Regions from separate parts of the Homo sapiens genome. Here region 2 is linked to region 1. The links come from fine-mapping of genetic effects on gene expression. A gene starts in region 1. The other region holds a variant in brackets. All regions are shown on one strand. Distances are between the middles of the regions.

Region 1 (14,821 bases):
ATGGCCCCCCACTCAGCCACGGGAAAGGATGGATCCCACTCAGCCAAGGGAGAGGATGGCCCCCCCACTCAGTCACGGGAAAGGATGGATCTCGCTCAGCCACGGGAAACAGCCAGAGGGATGAGTGCACATGGGCCCAAACCAAGACGCAAACGAAGAGACCCGGCTGCAGAGTCCACTTCTGTGGGATTCTAGAAGATGCAAACTCATTGATAGCCTTGAAATCAGATCACTTTTGGCCTGGGGTGGGGTTTGAATGGGAAAGAGCGGGAGATAACTTTTGGGCGATAGAAATGCTCTGTGTTGATTGGGAGTGGATAAATGGGTTTGTACGTTTGTCAAAACTCACTGAACTGAACTCTTAGAATGTGAACCTTTAATTGTATGTGGATTATACCCCCCGATAAAGTTGATTTTTTTTTTTTTTTGGAGACAGACTCTAGCTCTGTTGCCAGGCTGGAGTTCAGTGGCACAATCTCGGAGCACTGCAACTTCCACCTCCCAGGTTCAAGCAATTCTCCTGCCTCAGCCTCCCTAGTGGCTGGGATTACAGGCATATGCTACCATGCCCAGCTAATTTTTTGTATTTTTAGTAGAGAGGGGGTTTCACCGTGTTAGTCAGGATGGTCTCGATCTCCTGACCTCGTGATACACCTGCTTCAGCCTCGCAAAGTGCTGGGATTACAGGTGTGAGCCACCCGCATCCTGCAAGGGAGTAGAGTTTTTAAGGATAACTTGGTTGGTGGGGGGAAGCCAGTGAGCCAGGATGCTGATTGGTCAGAGATGAAATCATAGCAAGTCAAAGCTGTCTTTCCTCTTGCACTGAGTCAGTTCCTGGGTGGGGGCCACAAGATCTGACGAGCCTGTTTATCCATCTGGGTGGTGCCAGCTGATCCATCAAGTGCAGGGTCTGCAAAATATCTCAAGCGCTGATCTTAGGAGCAGTTTAGGGAGGGTCAGAATCTTGTAGCCTCCAGCTGCATGGCTCCTAAACCGTAATTTCTAATCCTGTGGCTAATGTTAGGCAAGAAGGAGGTTTGCTTTGGGAAAGGGCTGTTACCGTCTTTGTTTAAACTGTAAACTACAAGCTAAGTTTCTCCCAAAGTTAGTTCAGCCTACGCCCAGGAATGAACAAAGACAGCTTGGAGGTTAGAAGGAAGATGGAGTCGGTTAAGTTAGATCTTTCACTGTCTCAGTCATAATTTTACAAAGGCGATGTCAGTAGCACTAAAGAAGGCAGAAACAACCAATAAACGCAGACCATGGCTTCAGGAAAACTTTATTTACAAAAGCAGGCAGTTAACATTCAGAATACATAACCAACTCCCACAACTCAACAGCAAAAAATCAAGCCACCAGATTACAAAATGGGCAAAGCACTTGAATAGGCATTTCTCCAAAGGAGATACACAAGTGGCCAGTAAGCACCTGCAAATGTTGACAAAAAGAGTCAAAATCTGTAAAATATTTGAAGAGATTTATTCTGAGCCAAACATGAGTGACCCTGACCTGTGACACAGCCTCAGGGGGTCCCGGGAACACATGCCCAAGGTGGTCGGGGCGCAGCTTGGTTTTATACATTTTAGGGAGACAGGAGACATCAATCAAATACATTAAAGAAAGACACTGTTTGGTCCAGAAGGGCGAGACAACTCAAAGGGGTGGTGGGCAGGCCTCCAGGCTATAGGTAAATTTAAACATTTTCTGGTTGACAATTGGTTGAGTTTGTCTAAAAACCTGGGATCCATAGAAAGGAAATGTTCAGGTTAAGAGAAAAGATTGTGGAGGCTAAAGTTTCTTTGAGGTCTTACAATGGCTGCCCTTAGAGAGACAGTAAGTGACAAATAATTCCTATGCTAGACTTTAAGTTAATCTCTTTAGGATTGGGAGGGCCTGAAAGAAAAAGATCTAGCTATGTTAATAGAGATTCTTCACAGATGCAAATTTTTCCCCACAAAGGAGGGCTTTGCAAAGCCTTCAAAATATGGCTAACCAGGCCGGGCGCGGTGGCTCACGCCTGCAATCCCAGCACTTTGGGAGGCCAAGGCGGGTGGATCACGAGGTCAGGAGATCGAGACCATCCTAGCTAACACAGTGAAACCCCGTCTCTACTAAAAAATACAAAAAAATTAGCCGGGCGTGGTGGCGGGCACCTGTAGTCCCAGCTACGTGGGAGGCTGAGGCAGGAGAATGGCGTGAACCCGGGAGGTGGAGCTTGCAGTGAGCCGAGATCGCGCCACTGCACTCCAGCCTGGGCGACAGAGCGAGACTCCGTCTCAAAAAAAAAAAAAAAAAAAAAAATACAAAAAATTAGCCAGGTGTGGTGGCAGGCGCCTGTAGTCCCGGCTACTGGGGAGGCTGAGGAGGAGAATGGTGTGAACCCGGGAGGCGGAGCTTGCAGTGAGCTGAGATCGCGCCACTGCACTCCAGCCTGGGTGACAGAGGGAGACTCCATCTCAAAAAAAAAAAAAAAATTAGCCAGGCATGGTGGCAGGTACCTATAGTCCCAGCTACTCAGGAGGCTGAGGCAGGAGAATGGCGTGAACCTGGGAGGCGGAGCTTGCAGTGAGCCGAGATCGCGCCACTGCACTGCAGCCTGGGCAACAGAGCGAGACTCAGTCTCAAAAAAAAAAAAAAAAAGGCTACCAGCGCAGTGGCTCACACCTGTAATCCCAGCACTTTGGGAGGCCAAGGTGGCAGATCACCTGAGGTCAGGAGTTCGAGACCAGCCTGGCCAACATGGAGAAACCCCCTCTCTACTAAAAATACACAAACTGGGTGGGGCGTGGTGGCTCATGCCTGTAATCCCAGCCCTTTGGGAGGCTGAGGCAGGTGGATCACCTGAGGTTGAGAGTTCGAGACCAGCCTGACCAACATGGAGAAACCCTGTCTCTACTAACAATACAAAAATTAGCTGGGTGTGGTGGCAGGTGCCTGTAATCCCAGCTACTTGGGAGGCTGAGGCAGGAGAATCACTTGAACCTGGGAGGCAGAAGTTGCAGTGAGCTGAGATTGTGCCACTCCACTCCAGCCTGAGTGACAGAGAGAGACTCTGTCTAAAAAAAAAAAAATTAAGTCACAATATATAGGATTAAATAAAACCCATCTGATGAGAATTTATGGTTTGTAGGGCATGACTCTCTAGACCCCTTAGATAAGAATTTGGGCAAGATAAAAAATATGAGTTTAGTCCTCACAAAGATGTTCAACATCACTAGTGGTTAGAGAAATGCAAATCAAAACCACAGTCAGGCCGGGTTCAGTGGCTCACGCCTGTAATCCTAGCACTTTGGGAGGCTAAGGCGGGTGGATCACTTGAGGTCAGGAGGATCACTGAGACCAGCCTGGCCAACATTGTGAAACCCCATCTCTACTAAAAATAAAAAATGTAGGCTGGGCACGGTGGCTCATGCCTGTAATCCCAGCACTTTGGGAGGCCAAGGTAGGCAGACTGCCTGAGCTCAGGAGTTCAACACCAGCCTAGGCAACACAGTGAAACCCCGTCTCTACTAAAATACAAAAAAGATTCGCCGGGTGTGGCGGCCTGTGCCTGTAATCCCAGGTACTCAGGAGGCTGAGGCAGGAGAATTGCTTGAACCCGGGAGGCAGAGGTTGCAGTGAGCCGAGATTGTGCCACTGCACTCCAGCCTGGGTGACAGAGCGAGACTCAGTCTCTAAAAAAAACCCAAAACCAAACAAAAATTAGCTCCAGGCGTGGTGGCTCATGCCTGTAATCCCAGCACTTTGGGAGGCCGAGGCAGGCAGATTGCAAGGTCAAGAGATAGAGACCATGGTGGCCAACATGGTGAAACCCCATTTCTACTAAAAATACAAAAATTAGCGGGGCGTGGTGGTGCACACCTATAGTACCAGCTACTCGGGAAGCTGAGGCAGGAGAATTGCTTGAACCCGAGAGGCAGAGGTTGCAATGAGCTGAGATCACTTCATTGCACTCCAGCCTGGGCAACAAGAGCAAAGCTCTGTCTCAAAAAAAAAAAGAAAAAAAAAAATTTAGCCGGGCATGGCGTGCACCTGTAATCCCAGCTACTCAGGAGGCTGAGGCAGGAGAATCACTTGAACCTGGGAGGCAGAGGTTGCAGTGAGCTGAGATTGTGCCACTGCACTTCAGCCTTGGCGACAAGACCACAACTCTGTCTCAAAAAAAAAAACACACACAATGAGATATCAGTTCACACCCATGGGTACTGTTGAAAGCAACTAAGGGAAAAGAACAAGTGTTGGCTGTGGAGAAAGGGAACGCGTGGGTGCTGCTGTTGGGAAGGTAACATGGTGTGGACCTTGTGGAAAATGGTGTGGAGGTTCCTGAAGAAATTAAATAACATTCCCTACAATCCAGCAATTCCACTCCTGGGTATATATTCCAAAGAAGTGAAGGTAGGGACCCAAACAGTTATCTGTGTACCCACATTCGCAGCAGCATGATTCGCGGTAGTCAAAGGTGGAAATAACCATGCGTCCATCCATGGGTAAATGGACAAAGAAAATGTCCAGCTCAAGGAGGCTCACGCCTGGAATCCTAGCACTTTGGAAGGCTGAGGCAGGTGGATTGCTTGAACCCAGGAGTTGGAGACCAGCCTGGGCAACACAGTGAGACCTTGTTTCTACAAAATATGAAAAAATTAGCTGGGTGTGAAGGCGCGTCCCAGGTACTTGGGAGGCTGAGAGGTGGGAGGTTCACCTGAGCCCAGGAGGCGGAGGTTGCAGCGAGCTGTGCTCCTGCCACTGCACTCCAGCCTGGGCTACAGAGTGACATCCTGTCTCAAAAAAAAGAAAAAGAAAAAGGAGAAAGAGAATGTGGTCTATCCATACAATGGGTATCATCCTGCCTTGAAAAGGAAGAATGTTCTGACACACAGGACCGTAAAGGCCACAGCTCAGCCCTGGAAGGACTGTGGAAAAATGAACTCGCAAAAAGCAGGTGAGAAGGAGTGTGCATGTTTATGGAACATGTGCATTCAGGGAGAATCACAGAGCGACTGCCCACACCCTCAGGGAGGTCAGAAGCAAAGCAGGTTATGGGAGGTGGGGAGAAGGGCAGCTCTGTTGAGGGGATACACCGGGAGAATGAATGTGTCTGGGAAGAGAGAGTAACTCCTAGATGGTTCTCTCTGAAGGAAAAGGGTTAACTCGTAGGTGGTTCTCTGAGGGAAAGGATCTGTTCAGGTGTAGCCACATTCTTGCTCTTCCAGGGAGGGGAAGGAATAAACAATTGTTCTCCTTGGCGGGTCCGGATCTTAGGCAGATAAAGAAGCTTTGACTTTGGGAGAAGTGGGGGGAGGCTGGAGAGACCTTGAGCGTTTCTTTCTTCAGTTCAGCGTGTGAAGGTGCCCTATTTTGGGATATCAATTACTGAGCCCCAACATTACAACATAGATGAACCTGGAGAACATCATACTCAGTGAAAGAAGCCAGTCACAAAAGCGCAAATACTATAGGATTCTACTTATATGAGGTTTTCAGAGGAGTCAAACCCACAGAGACAAAAGCAGAAGAGAGGGCCAGCCTCCATGGCTCACGCCTGTAATCCCAGCACTTTGGGAGGCCAAGGCGGGCGGATCACCTGAGCTCAGGAGTTTGAGACCAGCCTGGCCAACATAGCGAGACCCCATCTCTACTAAAAATACAAAAATTAGCCGGGTGTGATGGCACACACCTGTAATCCCAGCTACTTGGGACGCTGAGGCAGGAGAATTGCTTGAACCCGGGAGTCGGAGGTTGCAGTGAGCCAAGATCATGCCACTGCACTCCAGCCTGGGTGACAGAGCAAGACTCTGTCTCAAAAAACAAAAACAAAAACAAAAAACAAACAAAAAAGAAAGTAGAAGAGTGGGTGCCAGGGGCTGAAGGAGGGGAATGAGGAATGAGTCTTTAACGGGGACAGAGTTTGTTTTGGAAGCTGAATGAGTTCTGGAGCTGGATGGTGGTGACGGTTATACAACAATTTTTTTTTTTTTTGAGACAGAGTCTCGCTCTGTCACCCAGGCTGGAGTGCAGTGGCGCGATCTTGGCTCACTGCAAGCTCCACCTCCCGGGTTCATGCCATTCTCCTGCCTCAGCCTCCTGAGTAGCTGGGACTACAGGTGTCCGCCACCACGCCCGGCTAATTTTTTGTATTTTTAGTAGAGACAGGGTTTCACTGTGTTAGCCAGGATGGTCTCCATCTCCTGACCTAGTGATCCGCCCGTCTCGGCCTCCCAAAGTGTTGGGATTAGAGGCGTGAGCCACCACGCCCCGCCTCAACAATGTTTTTATAGAGACAGGGTTTCACCATGTTGCCCAGGCTGGTCTCCAACTCCTGGGCTCAAGCAATTCTCCTGCCTCGGCATCCCAAAGTGCTGGGATTACAGGCGTTTGCCACTACGGCCGGCCCACAACAATGTGATTGTACTTAATGTCACTGAACTGTGCACTTAAAAATGGTTAAGATGGGCCGGGCGCGGTGGCTCACGCCTGCAGTCCCAGCACTTTGGGAGGCCGAGGCAGGTGGATCATGAGGTCAGGTGTTCAAGACCAGCCTGACCAACATGGTGAAACCCCATCTCTACTAAAAATACAAAAATTAGCCAGGTGTGGTGGCGTGTGCCTGTAATCCCAGCTACTTGGGAGGCTGAGGCAGGAGAATCACTTGAACCAGGGAGGTGGAGGTTGCAATGAGCCGAGATCGCGCCATGGCACTCCAGCCTGGGTGAAAAGAGCGAAACTCTGCCTCAAAAAAAACAAAACAAAAAAAAACAAAAACAAACACATTCTGAGGCTGGGTGTGGTGGCTTATGTCTGTTGTTTAATTTTATTTATTTATTTATTTATTTATTTTGAGATGGAGTTTCACTCTTGTCTCCCAGGCTGGAGTGCAATGGTGCGATCTCGGCTCACCGCAACCTCCGCCTCCCGGGTTCAAGCGATTCTCCTGCCTCAGCCTCCCGAGTAGCTGGGATTACAGGCATGCACCACAACACCCGGCTAATTTTGTATTTTTAGTAGAGACAAGGTTTCTCCATGTTGGCCAAGGCTGGTCTCGAACTCCTGACCTCAGGTGATCAGCCCGCCTCGGCCTCCCAAAGTGTTGGGATTACAGGCGTAAGCCACCACGCTGGGCCGATGGCTTACGTCTATAATCCTAACACTTTGGGAGGCCGAGGCGGGAGGATCACTTGGGCCCAGGAGTTTGAGACTAGCCTGGGCAACATAGTGAGATCTCATCTCTACAAAAAATACAAAAATTAGTAGGGTGTGGTGGCGTGCACCTGTAATCCCAGCTGCTTGGGAGGGTGAGGCAGGAGGATCACCTAAACCCAGGTAGTCAAGGCTGCAGTGAGTGGCGATTGAGCCACTGCACTCCAGCCTGGGTGACAGAGTGAGACCCTGTCTCAAAAAAAAGAAACTGTGGTACATATACACCATGAAATACTACACAGCCATAAAAAAGAATGAGATCATGTCCTCTGCAGCAACATGGATGGAGTTGGAGGCCATCATCCTAAGCGAACTAACACAGGAACAGAAAACCAAACACTACATGTTCTCACTTATAAGTGGGAGGTAAACACTGAAAATATACGGGCCGGGCGCTGTGGCTCACACCTATAATCCCAGCACTTTGGGAGGCCGAGGTGGGCAGATCACGAGGTCAGGAGATCGAGACCATCCTGGCTAACACGGTGAAACCTCATCTCTACTAAAAATACAAAAAATTAGCCAGGTGTGGTGGCGGGCGCCTGTAGTTCCAGCTAATCGGGAGGCTGAGGCAGGAGAAAGGCGTGAACCTGGGAGGCGGAGCTTGCAGTGAGCCAAGATAGCGCCACTGCACTCCAGCCTGGGCGAAAGAGCGAGACTCCGTCTCAAAAAAAAAAAAAAGAAAATAGGACACAAAGAAGGGAACAAGAGACACCAGGTCCCACTTGAGGGTGGGAGGGTGGGAGGAGGGAGAGAGGATCAAAAAACTACTTATCGGGTACTCTGCTTATTACCTGGGTGATGAAATAATCCGTTCATCAAACCCTGTGAAACATAATTTACCTGTATAACAAACCTGTCCACACACCACTGAACCTAAAAGTTATAAAAAGAATAAAAAATTTAATAAGACCGCACAAAACAAAAAAGAAACATGTCCTTCCTCGGTGGGCCTAGTAACGGTTTCCAAATGCAAATCCCATCTTGCCATCCCACCCTCTCCTAAACTCTTCCTGGGTATTTCTTTGAGTTTGGGGTGAAGACCCCGTTAGCTTGGCTTTCCAGGCCAGGGTGGGCTGGGCTGGGGTTCCCTGAGTACTTTCCAGGAGTACAGGCTTCGCCATCTCTAGCAATCTCGGCCCTCACGGTCTGCCCTGATCACCTCAGCACGTAGCCACCTGTTCACTCATTTTTCTCTTGCAATTTTGCCACGGGTGGTGCAATCTTTGCTCTTCTTGTCCCCCACCCCTAAGCGCTGGGAGCTCCTGCAGGCGGGTCTTGTTCTCACTGTGTCAACTGCAGCACTTACCTCGCAGCGTGTGCTCTCTGGGCAGGCCGGTGTGCAGCAGGCACTCCAGGATGTGAGTGAATGCTATGGCTGACTACGGGGCACTGTGGAACCTCTTTATTGGGAAAACAAACATGGTGGGCCAGGAGACCTCTTGTCCCTTCCAGCTCGGTGGCTTCTGGCCCCCAGTCCAGGGTCGGGAGTCTGTGTGTCCTGCGGCCTGGAGGATGAGCTGGGTGCAGGTAAAAGGCATCCAGGACTTGCTGATCCAGCCCAGGGCATCAGGCTGTCCAGCTGCTGGGCTGCTCTGGGAGGCAGCATGGAGGGTCCTGGCTGAAGTGTGTGTTTCTGGGCTGTTACTTTAGGACTGTACTGAAGGCTGGGTTGGTGAGCATTGTTTAGAATCATGCATTTGCAAAAGCAGTGCTTGCACGTGGTGAAAGCCATTCCAACTAGCGCGCAACGTGTACGGTGAACAGCACTAACTTTTCCCCGGTCCTCTCTCCCAGAGCAATCGCTGTTGGCTGTGTCTTCTGTGAGTGAGCCCCCGGGCTCTTTTGGCTGCCGGCGGTGTGACTTTGGACACATTCTCCAACTTTTCTCCGCCTTGATTTCCTCATCTGTAAAACAGGGACATAACAGCAAGTGCCTCGTGGAATCATTGAATGGATGCACTAATCGCTGGAAAGTGCGCTGCTTGGCCTAAGTGATGAGTTAGCTGTCATTATAGTTAGGAACGACCATGTACACATTACAGGCGTTTCACACACACACACATCCCAATCCTACCGCTTTCTTAAAACGACAGACAGTACAGTGCCCTGTTCCATATTTTGCTTTTACTTAATTATAATCTTTGGAGAACTCACCCTTGAGCACAGGTATATTTACCTCTGTGCAGTGTTCCACAGGACCGATGCGCAGCCCATCTAGCTAACCTTTCCTCCCCAGCGGATTTATGGGCTATGTCGTTGGTTTGGGTGACAACTTTTTGGTCTACAATTTTTTTTTTTTTTTTTGCAATTTGGCATTATGGAACTCAACTTTAAATGCCTAACCTCTAACTCAGCCATTCTATTTCTAAGAATTAATTCTGCGCAGTCCCCCGTTTTGGGAACATTTCCCACGCCTGTTCTCCATTCTCCTGTAGAAGGGGAACAGGGAGCGGGAAGGAGGGGAACAGGGAAGGGGAGGGAGGGGAACAGGGAGGGGGGACAGGAGGGAGGAGAACAGGCAGTGGGGGCGGGAGGGGAGCGGGGGGGAAGGCATGGGAGGGGGCGGAAGGGAGGGGGCAGGGAGGGAGAGAGGTGATGGGAAGGGGAAAAGGAGGGAGGAGGACGGAGAGAGGGGAAAGGAGGGAGGGGAGCAGAGAAGAAGCGGGGCGGGGAAGGGGCGGGGAAGGGGCGTGGAAGGGAGTGGGGCAAGGAATCAACACTGAGCCCCGTGGCCCGCTCCCGGGTCAGCGCGCCTCTCTGCTCTCACCGGGGCGGGTCCGCTGTTGGCCCCACCCACTCCCAGCCCACCCGGCCCCGCAATGGCCCGGCCCAGCCGCCCACCCCCCCGACAGGCCCCGCCCCATTCCCCGCCCCCCGTCTGTTCGTCACGCCCGGCTCTGCCGCTCCGTCCCGCAGGCCCCGCCCTCATCCCGCCTCCCGGCCCGGCGCGCAGTGCGGCTGCGCGGGCGTCTCAGGCTCTGAGGCCCGGGCGCCGCGGCTCTTTTGTTTCTCCGTTGGGGCCGAGCCCGGGCCCTAGTTGGAGCCGGAGTCGGAGTCGGAGTCGGATCCGGATTCGGATTAGCAGCCCGGGAAGAGTGCCGTGGCACAGGCGCCGGAGGGAGCGCGACCCTCGGACCCCGCCTGGCCCGCGGGGCTGGGACCCGGCCCCGGCCTGCCCGATGGGGCGCGCGGCCCCGGAGATGCGCCCTCGCCCGGCCCCGCGCCCCCGGCCCCGCGCCCCCGGCCCGCCCGCCCCGGCCCGCGCCTCCGCCTGAGTCCCCCGCGCCTTGGCCCGCCACCCCCCGCCCCGCGCCCCCGGCCCGCCTGCGCCATGGAGCCCGGCCGCGGCGGCACAGAGACCGTGGGCAAGTTCGAGTTCTCCCGCAAGGACCTGATCGGCCACGGCGCCTTCGCGGTGGTCTTCAAGGGCCGCCACCGCGAGGTGAGGCCCCCGTCCGGCCCGGGATCCCCCGCCCAGGATCCCCTGCCCCTGCATCCCCGCCCCGAGATTCCCCGCCTGTCCCGGGACCCCCCCACGCCTCCCGAGAGCCCCACTCGACTTTCCAGGCCGACCCCCACCCCAGGATCCCCACCCCGCGACCCCCAGCCCGACTTTCCAGTTCAGACTCCCGCCCCGAGATCCGCTGCCGGGCTTTCCAGCCCAGATCCTCACTCCGAGACCCCCAGCCCGACTTTCCTGTCCAAACCCTCACCCCGGGACACCCCGCAACCTGGTCCCACAGCCGGCTTTCGAGGCTGGATCCCTACCCCAGGACCCCCAGCGCGATCCTCAACCTGGCTCCCCACTCGGCCTTCCAGTCCCGGGATTCCCAACCGGGATCATCTCAGGGCCCCACCTGTGTGGACTGGGGTCTGGGGGAGGCCTGCGAGGGGCAGCCCTGGCCTTGAAGGTGCACGTTTGGCTTTCAGAAGCACGATTTGGAGGTCGCCGTCAAGTGCATTAACAAGAAGAACCTCGCCAAGTCTCAGACGCTGCTGGGGAAGGAAATCAAAATCCTGAAGGTGAGCCAGTGCTGGGGGAGGGGGCGTGGGCGTGGGCGTGGGCAAGCCCCCCTCCCCACACTGATAACAAACTTGGGTTTCTGTCCTAGGAACTGAAACATGAAAACATCGTGGCCCTGTACGACTTCCAGGTAAGGCCTCTGGGCTGCGGTCTGCTGGGGACCGGGCTGGGGGACTGTGGCCCCAGGTGCTGGATCCCCTGGTGAGCACTGGTGTTGAGCCTGTCCAGGCTGGGGTCTACTGGGCCCCTGGAGACTCCACCCTGGGTCCAGGCCTGGGCTGGTGCTGGCTCTTGCTGTGACTTCCCCAGCTGTGAGACCGGGGAGGGGGTGTCTGGGCCGCAGGGCGCCCCAGGGCAGGGCTGAGTTCTCCTGAACAGGCATCCCCTCCCCGCCGGGCGTCAGTCCTAGGGGCCCTGCCTGAGTCCGGCGTCCCCGGCTGGCCCTGGCAGCACTGCCGGCCTGGCCCACCTGTCTAGGCCGTGTGTTTGTTGACATTGCTCCTGCGGCCGGCATTGGCCGGCCTCGCTCTGCGTCAGACGGGGCGGGGGAGGGGCCGCCGGAGACTCCTGCTCGCTGGCAGTCAGGGCCGGGCCGGGGCACAGGCGGCTGCCGCTGGCTGGCCAAGGAGATGACCTCGGGCCCGGCTGGCCCCAAGAAGCAAGCGGTGGGACCAGCTGGCTTTCGTGCTGCCTCCGTGTCCCGGGGCCCAGGGCAGGCAGGGCTGGGGCTGTGGGAGCCAGGGTGCCGTCCTGGGGACCAGGAACCTGAGGCGGGAGATCCGCCCCGCCAAAGTGCTGACTAATGGCTCTGTGACCTGTTTACTGAGCCCAGGGCCCAGCCCCTGGCTGAGGGAAGGGCTGGCAGGCCGTGTTTTGGTGGCCTCCTCCGTCCGCCTCTCAGAGCTTTGCTGTGGCCTTGGGGACCGAGGCTTGTCACAAGGTGCCGGGTGGGGGGGGCCCAGGTCCAGCGAGTACCTGGAAACCCAGGCACACTGTGTCCTGGAGCTGGGCCATCCCTCCTGCTGCTTTTCCCGCCCTCTTCCCACCCCTTTTCTCCCTGCTTTCCTCCCTCCCTTCCTCCTCTTTCCTCATCCTCTCCATGTTTGGAAGCCTCCTGCCTGGACCACAGCCTGCACATGCGTCATGGCTCTGGGAGCCAGCAAGGAGTGGACAGCTGTCCCTGGCCAGGCAGCGACTCTGAGGGACTCCCCCTCCACCCTGGGCTACACTGCCTGCTGCTCCCCTCCAGGGCTCCCCAGGTCCAGTCCTGGGCATCTCCAGGCCAGGCCCTGTGACTGTCCGCACGACCCCCGCAGACCCGGGACCAGTATCCCCAGGCCCAGCTCCATCCCAGTCAGCCACACACACCTGGTTGTGGGCATCTGCCACTTCCTCCAGTGTTGGCAACTCTGCGGCTTTCTCTACTCAGGAAGCACTTGGAGCCGCCAGCTGCAGGCGCTCCTGTCTCCGGGCACCGGGCTCTGCTGGAGCTGCAGCTTAGCCTGCCCTCGCCCCCACAGGCGTGGGGATTGTTGCCCTGTGTCGGTAAGGCAATGTTTGAGGCAGGCACCCAAACCCAGGAAAAAATAACTGGGTTTTAAAAATGGACAATGAACGATTTGGGTGATAAAAGAAAATCCTCAAACATTACGGGAGGGAGTGCGGTCGAGGCTAGAGTCCTGCCCCCGATCGAGTCCCGCTGCCCTCCGTTCTCAGGCCCCTGCTTTAGTTGTTTCCGGGCCACCGGGGACAGCCATCCTTACAAGGCGATGTGTTCACCGGTGTCCTTCCCCGCCACACCCACCTCTCTGCGCCGTGAATTTTGTCACTTAAGAGTATAGTTTGCACTCCATCCAGCCTGGGCGACTGAGCGAGGCCCTGTCTCTAAAAGAGTAGAGCTTGGGGAAGGTTCTGTGCTGGCTCAATCCATATCAGAAAGTTTACCCCTCGGCCAGGCACAGTGGATCACACCTGTGACCCTAGCACTGTGGGAGGCCAAGACAGACCAGCCTGGGCAACATAGCAAGACTCGCTCTCTCTAAAAAAAAGAAAAAAAAAGAAAAAAAATTAGCCAGGCATAGTGGCATGTCTCAGCTACTATAAAGGTTGTAGGAGGATTGATTAAACCCAGGAGTTTAAGGCTGCAGTGAGCCGTGATGTTGCCACCGCGTTCCAGCCTGGGCAGCAGAGTGTAACCCTGTCTCAAAAACACAAAACAAAACCCTCAAAAAGTTTACCCCTCTCTGTTAGAGGTCACCATCTGTAAGCACAGTGGTCGAGAGCCAGGCTGACGCTGATGAGGGGCCCAGTCCTGGCTGCCATATGTGCACACACAGCTTCTTTAGTTTGCGGTCCTATTTCTTCCTCTGTGAAGCAGAAAGCACGGGCTGTGAGGGCTGTGTGAGGGAGGAGGGAGTGCTCTCGGGTTGGAGGAGCCATCGTGGAGGTGCTAGCTGCTGGCCTGATTGGGTCTGCCGTGGTGATTTTCAGCCATGGCGTGCCTGTTGCCCGAGATTCCATAACTGATTTCACCAAGGCCCTGTAGGTGGGACATGAGGTTATTTTGGGATGCTGGTACATCAGGGTGGTTGTGACTGGATCCTTAGAAGTAGAATCCTTGGGTAGGAGGGATGCTGGTTTTTAATTTGGGTAGCTATTGCCAAATGGACCTCCGGAGAGGCAATGCCACTGGTCTCTCAGCCTGTCTCCAAGCATGTGTCTCCCTAGGTCCTTGCCAGGAGGGTGGCTCTCAGAGGTTTCCATCGTGGCTCATGTGAGAAGTAGAAAATGACATCTCTTATGGTTTTGCTTTTCTTTTTTTTTTGAGACTGAGTTTTGCTCTTGTCGCCCAGGCTGGAGTGCAGTGACACAATCTCCCCTCACTGCAACCTCCGCCTCCTGGGTCCAAGCGATCCTCCTGCCTCAGCCTCCCGAGTAGCTGGGATTACAGGCGCCTGCCACCACGCTAGGCTAATTTTTGTATTTGCAGTAGAGACACGGTTTCACCATGTTGGCCAGCCTGGTCTCGAACTGACCTCATGATCCACCCACCTCGGCCTCCCAAAGTGGTGGGATTGCAGGAGTGAACCACCATGCCTGGGCGGTTTTCTTTTACATTGGTGATGAATGAGCTTCCCTATCCGAGCATGGGAATGTTAGAAATACCACCTGTCCTTTGTATAGTGTATTTCTTTTTTTTTTTGAGATGGAGCTTCTCTTTGTCACCCAGGCTGGAGTGCAGTGGCGCGATCTTGGCTCACTGCAACCTCCACCTCCCTGGTTCAAGCGATTCTCCTGCCTCAGCCTCCCGAGTAGCTGGGATTACAGGCACCTGCCACCACGCCCGGCTAATTTTTGTATTAAAAAATTTATACAATTTTCGCCACATTGGCCAGGCTGATCTTGAACGCCGGACCTCACCTTCGACCTCCCAAAGTGCTGGGATTACAGGCATGAGCCACCATGCCCAGCCTGCCTGATATATTTCTATATTTTATATATACGTTTTTCTGAGATGTAGTTTCACTCTTGTTGCCCAGGCTGGAGTGCAGTGGCACCATCTCGACTCACTGCAATCTCCGCCTCCCGGGTTCAAGCGAT
Region 2 (9,527 bases), 31 kb after region 1:
GGCTGCAGCTTTGCCGACCCCATTACTGCGAACCTGGAGGGGGCTGTGACCTTCGAGGCCCCCGACCTCCCTGAGGAGACCCTCATGGAGGTGAGGGCTGGAGTGAGCAAAGGTTCCCATTCTGGCTGGAGGGTGTGTGGGGTGTGTGGGGTGTCGGGTGTGTGGGGTATAGGGTGTGTGGGGTGTCGGGTGTGGGGTGTCGGGGGTGTGGGGTGTAGTGTGTGGGGTGTAGAGTGTGTGGGGTGTGGGGTGTCGGGTGTGTGGGGTGTCGGGTGTGTGGGGTGTCGGGTGTGTGGGGTGTAGGGTGTGGGGTGTAGGGTGTGTGGGGTGCAGGGTGTGTGGGGTGCAGGGTGTGTGGGGTGCAGGGTGTGGGGTGCAGGGTGTGTGGGGTGTCGGGTGTGTGGGGTGCAGGGTGTGTGGGGTGTCGGCTGTGTGGGGTGTACGGTGTGTGGGGTGCAGGGTGTGTGGGGTGTCGGGCGTGGCACATCCCAGCTGCCCGGGCTGCAGCAGGGGAGGGTACCCTGCCCTGCCTCCCCAAGGCGTCATCGGTGAGTCTGAAGGGAGACAAGCCCCTTCCAAGCCCGGGCAGCACTTGCCGCCCTGACGGCCGCTTCCTGCAGCAAGAGCACACGGAGATCCTGCGTGGCCTGCGCTTCACGCTGCTGTTCGTGCAGCACGTCCTGGAGATCGCAGCCCTGAAGGGCAGCGCCAGTGAGGCGGCGGGGGGCCCTGAGTACCAGCTGCAGGAGAGTGTGGTGGCCGACCAGATCAGCCTGCTGAGCCGAGAATGGGGGTGGGTGCCGCCAGGGCTGGGGTGGGGCGGGTGGTGGCCTGGGGGCCAGGACCAACCGGCCTCCTCTGATCTGCCTGCCGCCCCCAGCTTCGCGGAACAGCTGGTGCTGTACCTGAAGGTGGCCGAGCTACTGTCCTCCGGCCTGCAAAGTGCCATCGACCAGATCCGGGCCGGCAAGCTCTGCCTGTCGTCCACTGTGAAGCAGGGTGAGGGCTGCGACCGCTCAGCCCACATGCCGGGTTGGGGAGGAAGCCCACCTTGCAACTGCCTGGGTGACAGGGTAACAGGGAGGCTGCTTGAGTAGGCCCCTGTGCAGAGGTGCAGAGGCCCCGGGGCCTGGCCCAGTGTGCAGAGCACAGAGGCCATTGGGTCGGACAGCACCCTGGAGCCCAGTATGCAGAGCACAGAGGCCGTGGGGTCGGATGGCACCCGGGACAAGGTGCGGAGCCTGGCCACACCCTCAAGGCCACGGGGAGCCAGGGCTGTGGCAGGGAGGGAGGGACGTGCTCGCTCAGTGCACCGGGCAGATCATGGCCACTCCAGCCCTGCCCCGTGTCTGCTGCACCCTGAGCTGACCACCCTCGTCCTTTGCAGTGGTGCGCAGGCTGAATGAGCTGTACAAGGCCAGCGTGGTGTCCTGCCAGGGCCTGAGCCTGCGGCTGCAGCGCTTCTTCCTGGACAAGCAGCGGCTCCTGGACCGCATTCACAGCATCACTGCCGAGAGGCTCATCTTCAGCCACGCTGTGCAGATGGTACGGGACAGACAGACACCAGTGGGGCAGGGGCCAGGAACTTCCAGGCCCGCCGTCTCCACTGGGACGGGACCTTGATGCCCACAGCGTGGTGAGACTTTGGGGGGTGTCACTTCTGGAGGTCTTGAAATGACAGCATTATGCACCCCCAGCCTCCTGCAGGCGCTCGCAGCTCGGCTGGGTGCATCCTTGATTGTACGGGTGCCGTGGCCCATGTGCATCCTGCCTCGCCCCGACTCAGTTTCCCCAATTGTAAAATGAGAGACTTGGTCTTCAGGCCTCGTAGTCAGGTGTCAGCCTCCAGAAGCAGCACCTGGTCCCGGACAACCTGCCTGGAAGTGTGGTGCACTCAGGTGGTACCACGGGCAAAGACTCCCTGCTTGGGCTCTGAAGAGCTCCCTCTGCCTCTGAGGTGGTGCCCCCTTTTCGTTTATTTTTTGTTGTTTTTTTTTAAGAGAGGGTCTTGCACTGTTGCCCAGGCTGAAGTGTAGTGTAGCCGCTAACTCCTGGGCTGAAATGATCCTCTTGCCTCAGCTTCCCAAGATGCTGGGTATTACAGGCAAAAACTCATGAGTGCCTGAGTCTCCTTTTTTAAGAAAATTTAAGCATGTAGTAAAAATCCAGTCTGAACAAACATGGGAAAAGTCAGCCTCCCTCCTGCCCCCCTTCCCGCCCAGGCAGGCCAGGCAGCAGCAGTAATGACACTGACTGAGCGGCGGGCACTCTGTTGTCCTGGGGCCGGGCTGAGAGCGCTGGCCAGGGTCATCTGGTTCCAGGCAGTGTCTCCCCTTGGCCCTGTGACCATCCCCTCTGCACAGCAGGCTGCACCAGCACTTATGTCTCCACGTCACTGCCCTGAGCGCCTATCTGCCACCCCTGGGCCGCTGCCGTGGGTGCAGGGCAGCCCTTGCTGGGAGGGAGTGGGGTGAGCTGGCCCTGTCCAGCCTCTGTCCTCGCCCCCAGGTGCAGTCGGCTGCCCTGGACGAGATGTTCCAGCACCGTGAGGGCTGCGTCCCACGCTACCACAAGGCCCTGCTGCTCCTGGAGGGGCTGCAGCACATGCTCTCGGACCAGGCCGACATCGAGAACGTCACCAAGTGTGAGTGCCCGGCTGGGCTGGGGGCTGGGGACTCTGGGCGTCTCCCTCACACTCCCCTCTCCCTCCACAGGCAAGCTGTGCATTGAGCGGAGACTCTCGGCGCTGCTGACTGGCATCTGTGCCTGACCTTTCTGGCCTGGCTGGGCCCCCCGTCCTGCCGAGCCCTGCAGAGTGGGCTCTGTGTGCTGGCTGGACTCCTCGGGACAAGCCCATGGCGCTGATCGCTGGTGCTGAGCCCTGCCCTGGGCCCCACGGACAGTCAGCCTGCCGGCCTCCCTGCAGCTCACGGGGCAGAACCAGCACATCTGGAGCCACACAGCTTGGGGGGTGTCTCCCATCTTTTACAGGTGGGGATCACAGAATTTCTGCCCCTCCAGCTGCCTGGCTCAGCAGGCGTGGGTGCCACCACCCTCTAGCCCCAGGGCAGCCCCGGAGGACAGGCAAGGGCCTGAGACCACTGCCGACTCAAAGCCAAAGCGAGCTCCTGCTTAGGGAAGGTCAGCAGGCACTGTGCCCAGGAAGAGCCTGCGGCCTCGGCGTCCCCCAGTCTCCAGGAGCCTCTCCCTCCGAGATACCCACCCAGCTTTGTCAATCACCCAAGCACTTTATGCATATAGAGACAGAACCTGGACCTCACCAGGGACTGCTGGGCAGCGATTCCTGGCAGTGGCCTGGTGTTTGTACATACACATATGCAGACACATGCCAGGGCCCCCCAAGCCCGAGCACCGGACCACGTTGCTGCCCAGGTCTGGACCTCAGCGGGAGAACTGGCTCCGGGGGGAGTGGGGCCCTGCGCTAGAGGCAGAGGCAGTTCTTTGTTCAAGCGTTCCTCTGGGGACCGGCAGCAGAGGCACCGTGTTCTCTCAGCCCTGGATACGTCTT[G/C]TAATCTTTCACACTTTATTCCTAAAACGTGTCTTATTTTTATGCAGCTCATTTTTTCTTTAAAGGAGAAAACTTGTAGGTGTTTAAGAATTGGTTTTGGGAGGGCGAGGACTGGGCCAGGTTAGAGGCAGATGGCACAGGGGCGTGTGGCGGGCGGGTGAGGCTGCTTTGCACACCTGTGTTGGTGGCTGTCCCCTGCCGCCCCTCCCTGTGGCAGCAGCAGGACAGGTGTGTGCCCAGCACCCTCCCTACCTGGGCCTGGAAGCAGATGAGGGGAATACTTCATGCAAAGAAAAAAGTAACATGTGCAAAAGCTCCCCGTCCAGCTTTGACAGTCAGTTTTGATGTCAGCTCCTCGGCAGGGTAGGCCTGATGACAGCCCTGTCCCTCCCTGCCTCTGCCTTGCCCAAGGCCACGGAGGGCATCTGCAGAGAGGCCTGCCTTCCGGATTCCAGGCGGGCATGCCCTGCAAACCCCGCCTGGGCCTCCCTTGGTCTGCCCAGCCCTCGATTAGCCCTGCCTGAATCAGTAGATACTTGAACGAGTCCCCAGTCTGCGGGAGGCAGTGGTGGGGCCATGGACCCATGCGGGGGGTTCCAGGGTCACACGCCACATAACAGACAAAAATACACACACGTGTGTTTTTCTTTGCAATACTTGAAATATTGCCACTGTGCTTGGACTTAGAAGAAGAAAATCCCCGTGACTTCTTCCTCATCACCTTGATGGCTTTATTCTCACCTTGTGGGGCATGTTTGTATTTATTGCTTCATGGCCGACTGGAATCCTGAGTCCTGGGAAGCTGGCACTGCGGGGATCTTGCCCGGTGTCCTGGTCCTCTTGCTTCCGTCGCGGCCGCATGTGCGTGTGTCCAAGCAGGTCCTGGGCGCCTCAACTGCTGCCCCTGGTTGAATGTTCTCTTGATAGTGCTGGACCCTTTGTCTATTTTAAAGCGAATTTTGTGTGATTTCCTGCCCTTTGCGTTATATTGTATAATACCAACGTAAGGAAATAAACCTTTGGAATTGTTGGGCTGGTGTCACCACTTGTCTTCGTTGGCTTGTCACTGTTTTCAGGGTTCTGTCATTTTCTTTCTCAGCCGAGGCGCAGGAGCCCAGGGCCCCTCCACAGGTGCCCACAATGGTCGACACAGCCCTGGGAGCAGAGCCCCAGGGCAGAAGCTGGATGTGTTGAGGGACAATGCAAACCCCTGCGCCACAGGAAGCCTCTCCCGCCAGGCTGGGGGTCCTGCACAGGGTGAAGAGAGTCCAGAGGGCAGGGCATCTGCCTTGGTATAGCTTTGGGCACCTGCTTTGACTCCTTTGGGGGATACACCTAGGAGGGGCTTTCGGGGCCACGTGGAGCTGTGTGTTAACTTCCAAGAAGCAACACGGTTCGTTCACTGCAGCCTCTGAGCAGCTGGGCCTCCAAGGCCTTGCCGTGTGGTTTTGATTTGCATTTCCCCGAGGGGTCATGACGTGGAGCATCACAGGTACTTGGCGGCCATTTGTGTGTCTTTGGAGGAACATCTAAATCCTTTGCCTCCCCCTTTTTATTTATTTATTTATTTTTTAATTTGAAATGAGTAACTCTGTTGCTCAGGCCGGAGTGCAGTGGCGCGATCTCGGCTCACTGAAACCTCTGCCTCCCAGGTTCAAGAGATTCTCCTGCCTCAGCCTCCCAAGTAGCTGGGACTACAGCCACCAAGCCCGGCTAATTTTTGTTTTTGTTTTGTTTTGTTTTTAGTAGAGACGGGGTTTCACCGTATTAGCCAGGATAGTTTCAATCTGATGTTGTGGTCTGCCTGCCTTGACCTTCCAAAGTGCTGGGATTACAGGCATGAGCCAGCGCACCTGGCTGTTTTTTTTTTTTTTTTTTTTTGGAGACAGTCTCCCTCTGTCACCCAGGCTGGAGTGTAGTGGTGCAATCTTGGCTCACTGCAATCTCTGCCTCCCGGGTTCAAGCGATTCTCCAGGCTCCCGAGTAGCTGGGATTATAGGCCAAGTGCCACCACGCCCAACTAGTTTTTGTATTTTTAGTAGAGACGGAGTTTCACCATGTTGTCCAGGATGGTCTCAATATGACCCCGTGATCCACCTGCCTGCCTCATCCTCCCAAAGTGCTGGGATTACAGGCGTGAGCCACCACGCCCCAACTTTTTTTTTTTTTTTTTTTTTTAGTTGAAATCTCACTCTGTAGCCCAGACTGGAGTGCAGTGCTGCAATCTGGGCTCACCGCAACGTCCGCCTCCCAGGTTCAAGCAATTCTTCTGCCTCAGCCTCCCGAATAGCTGGGACTACGGGCATGCGCCCAGCTAGTTTTTTGTATTTTTAGTAGAGACGGGGTTTCACATGTTGGCCAGGCTGGTCTCGAACTCCTGTAGAGTTCGCATTTTTAAAACTATATATTGTTTTTATTAGATAAAAATAACTTGCTAAAAACTGCTAACCGCAGTAAGAAGTGAAAGTTCATTGAGAGGTTGGTGTTCTCGAGGAAGGGGAAGGCGGAGACCTTGATTTCTGAGTCCCAAGAGGGGCTGCTTCCAAACTGAGCCTCCTCAGACAGGAACAGCTGCACTCGGCACCGAGTGAGAAGGTGTGGTGGAGCAGCTGCCAGGCTGTGGGCGCCGTGATCCTCCTGGTACTTCTGAAACGTAAAGAAATGCCCAGACGGTCACTACAAACATGGAATTTTGTTGGTGTTAATATCATTTTTTAGAGCAGTTTTATATCTGTAGGAAAATTGAGTAGGACGTACAGAGAGATCTGCCCTCTCCCCTGTCAGTAACACGTCACATTCGTGCAGTGCCTTTGTCTCTGCTTTTGAACCCAATATTCATATTTTAGATTTTTAAAAATCATGGACACTTCTAATACTACAGGTTCTGTCATAGTACCCGAAGTCCATAGTTCACATCATGGGGTCACTCGATGTACACTGGGCTTTGCAGAAGTGTCACGCCACACATCACCCTAAGGTCCTCTGGGCTCCACCTGTTGCCCTCTCCCAGCCTAGCTCTGCTGGCCCCGGTCTTCCTGTCCTCGTAGTTTTTCTTGTTTCAGAATGTCCCGTAGTTGGAATCATACACTATGCCCAGGGCTTGGGAGCTCATTTCCTTTTTTTTTTTGAGACGGAGTCTCGCTCTGTCGCCCAGGCTGGAGTGCAGTGGCGCGATCTCCGCTCACTGCAAGCTCCGCCTCCCGGGTTCACGCCAGTCTCCTGCCTCAGCCTCCCGAGTAGCTGGGACTACAGGGGCCTGCCACCACATCCTGCTAATTTTTTTTTTGTATTTTTAGTAGAGACGGGGTTTCACCATGTTAGCCAGGATGGTCTTGATCTCCTGACCTCGTGATCCGCAGGCCTCGGCCTCCCAAAGTGCTGGGATTACAGGCGTGAGCCACTACGCCTGGCCTTTTTTTTTTTTTTTTTTTTTTTTTTTGAGACAGTCTCGCTATGTTGTCCGGGCTGGAGTGCAGTGGCGGGAACTCGGCTCACTGCAACCTCCACCTCCCAAGGTTCAAGCGACTTTTGTGCCCCAGTCTCCTGAGTAGCTGGGATTACAGGCGTGAGCCACTGCACCCAGCCTGGCTAATTTTTGTATTTTTATTTATTTATTTATTTATTATTATTTTTTATTGATCATTCTTGGGTGTTTCTCACAGAGGGGGATTTGGCAGGGTCACAGGACAATAGTGGAGGGAAGGTCAGCGGATAAACAAGTGAACAAAGGTCTCTGGTTTTCCTAGGCAGAGGACCCTGCGGCCTTCTGCAGTGTTTGTGTCCCTGGGTACTTGAGATTAGGGAGTGGTGATGACTCTTAACGAGCATGCTGCCTTCAAGCATCTGTTTAACAAAGCACATCTTGCACCGCCCTTAATCCATTTAACCCTGAGTGGACACAGCACATGTTTCAGAGAGCACAGGGTTGGGGGTAAGGTCACAGATCAACAGGATCCCAAGGCAGAAGAATTTTTCTTAGTACAGAACAAAATGAAAAGTCTCCCATGTCTACCTCTTTCTACACAGACACGGCAACCATCTGATTTCTCAATCTTTTCCCCACCTTCCCCCCTTTGTATTCCACAAAACCGCCATTGTCATCATGGCCCGTTCTCAATGAGCTGTTGGGTACACCTCCCAGACGGGGTGGTGGCCGGGCAGAGGGGGCTCCTCACTTCCCAGTAGGGGCGGCCGGGCAGAGGCGCCCCTCACCTCCCTGACGGGGTGGCTGGCCTGGTGGGGGCTGACCCCCACCTCCCTCCAGGACGGGGTGGCTGCCGGGCGGAGACGCTCCTCACTTCCCAGACGGGGCGGTTGGCAGGCAGAGGGGCTCCTCACTTCTCAGACGGGGCAGCCGGGCAGAGACGCTCCTCGCATCCCAGACGGGGCGGCAGGGCAGAGGTGCTCCCCACATCTCAGACGATGGGCGGCCGGGCAGAGACGCTCCTCACTTTCCAGACTGGGCAGCCAGGCAGAGGGGCTCCTCACATCCCAGACGATGGGCGGCCAGGCAGAGAAGCTCCTCACTTCCCAGACGGGGTGGCGGCCGGGCAGAGGCTGCAATCTCAGCACTTTGGGGGGGCCAAGGCAGGCGGGTGGGAGGTGGAGGTTGTAGCGAGCCGAGATCACGCCACTGCACTCCAGCCTGGGCACCATTGAGCACTGAGTGAACGAGACTCCCGTCTGCAATCCCGGCGCCTCGGGAGGCGGAGGCTGGCGGATCACTCGCGGTTAGGAGCTGGAGACCAGCCCCGCCAACACAGCGAAACCCCATCTCCACCAAAAAAATAGGAAAACCAGTCAGGCGTGGCGGCGCGCGCCTGCAATCGCAGGCACTCGGCAGGCTGAGGCAGGAGAATCAGGCAGGGAGGTTGCAGTGAGCCGAGATGGCAGCAGTACCGTCCAGCTTCCGCTCGGCATCAGAGGGAGACCGTGGAAAGAGAGGGAGAGGGAGACCGTGGGGAGAGCGAGAGCGAGAGGGGGAGGGGGAGGGAGAGCGAGAGCGAGAGCGAGAGCGAGAGGGAGAGGGAGAGAGATTTTTGTATTTTTAGAGACGGGTTTTGCCACGCTGGCCAGGCTGGTCTCAAACTCCTGGCCTTAAGTGATCCGCCCTCCTGGCCTCCCAAAGCGTTAGGATTACGGGCATGAGCCACTGTGCCTGGCCTCATTTCTTTTTAGAGCTGCATAGTATTCCATTGTCTGTAGGTACCACAGTTTTTCCATTCACCTGCCGACATATCGGTTGTTTCTGCGTTTGGGCAGTGGTAAATAAAGCTGCTGTAAAGGTCCTTGTGCCAGAGCCAGGTGGTGAGGGTGGGCCCAGGGGAAGCCATGGCAGTACAGGAAGGACCTCATCCCTGCACACACTGGCCATGTGGGGGCGGGGCTCCAAGCCAGGGGGACCAGGCCTTGGTGCCCACACTGCCACAGAACTGTGGCCCCCCTGGGTGCCTGTCCAAACCCCCCCGCCTCAGTCCTGGAGCCTGGGCTGGTGGAGGGGTGCCCTCCTGGGGGGTCACTTATACAGCTGAGCCACCCTCCCAGCTGGACAATTGCATCTCCCTCCTGCCTCCCCTTCCTGCCTCGGCCACCAGCTCCTCACAAGCCACTCGCAGCCCACTGAGTGCCCCTTGGGAAGGGGTGTCAGATTGGATCCCTGGGGCTCCCATCTCACTCATAGCCAATGCCAAGTCCTCGGTGGCCCACGAGGCCCCACACAACCTGGCCCCGGACCCCTTGGTCCTCTTTTCCTATCAGTCCCTCCAGTCATCACGCAGCCCTGTGGTTTCTCTACCTGCATACTCCAGGTGGGCACAGTGCCCCGGCCCCACTGAGTCCTCACCTGTAGGAGAAGGCACAGCCCCTGGAGGGCGGGAGTGGGGCTGCTGCAGACGGCTGTCTCCTGCCTCCTGGCTCTTGCACTGCCAGGAACACGCTCTCCCCAACACCTCCATGGCTCATTCCCCAAATTCAAGCTTGTAGTTGGTTGAATTGTGGC

What was found.
Region 2: its variant is fine-mapped to the expression of ULK1 in whole blood (TOPMed, PIP 0.98).

What each region holds. Positions count from the first base shown.
Region 1 is chr12:131,884,474-131,899,294 of GRCh38, forward strand. It overlaps ULK1 (unc-51 like autophagy activating kinase 1), which reads left to right and starts at 10,149. Exons shown (of 28, transcript NM_003565.4): 1 at 10,149-10,639; 2 at 11,128-11,220; 3 at 11,310-11,351. The coding sequence starts at 10,529. LOC124903059 (a long non-coding RNA gene) reads right to left here and starts at 9,685. Exons shown (of 2, transcript XR_007063538.1): 1 at 9,374-9,685; 2 at 8,585-9,102. RefSeq lists silencers at 9,819-9,868, 9,899-10,408, 11,476-11,625, 11,551-11,845, 11,816-11,875 and 1 more and an enhancer at 12,333-13,130.
Region 2 is chr12:131,918,592-131,928,118 of GRCh38, forward strand. It overlaps ULK1 (unc-51 like autophagy activating kinase 1), which reads left to right. Exons shown (of 28, transcript NM_003565.4): 23 at 1-90; 24 at 621-793; 25 at 881-999; 26 at 1,388-1,545; 27 at 2,509-2,644; 28 at 2,715-4,559. The coding sequence ends at 2,770. PUS1-AS1 (PUS1 antisense RNA 1) reads right to left here. Exons shown (of 2, transcript XR_001749414.2): 1 at 9,372-9,527; 2 at 5,921-6,175. Among named protein-coding and RNA genes, the nearest start is that of PUS1-AS1, 5.0 kb to the right of the region's middle. RefSeq lists enhancers at 5,033-5,112, 5,523-5,582, 5,743-6,062, 6,164-7,040. The variant G/C (reference allele first, on the strand shown) is at 3,530.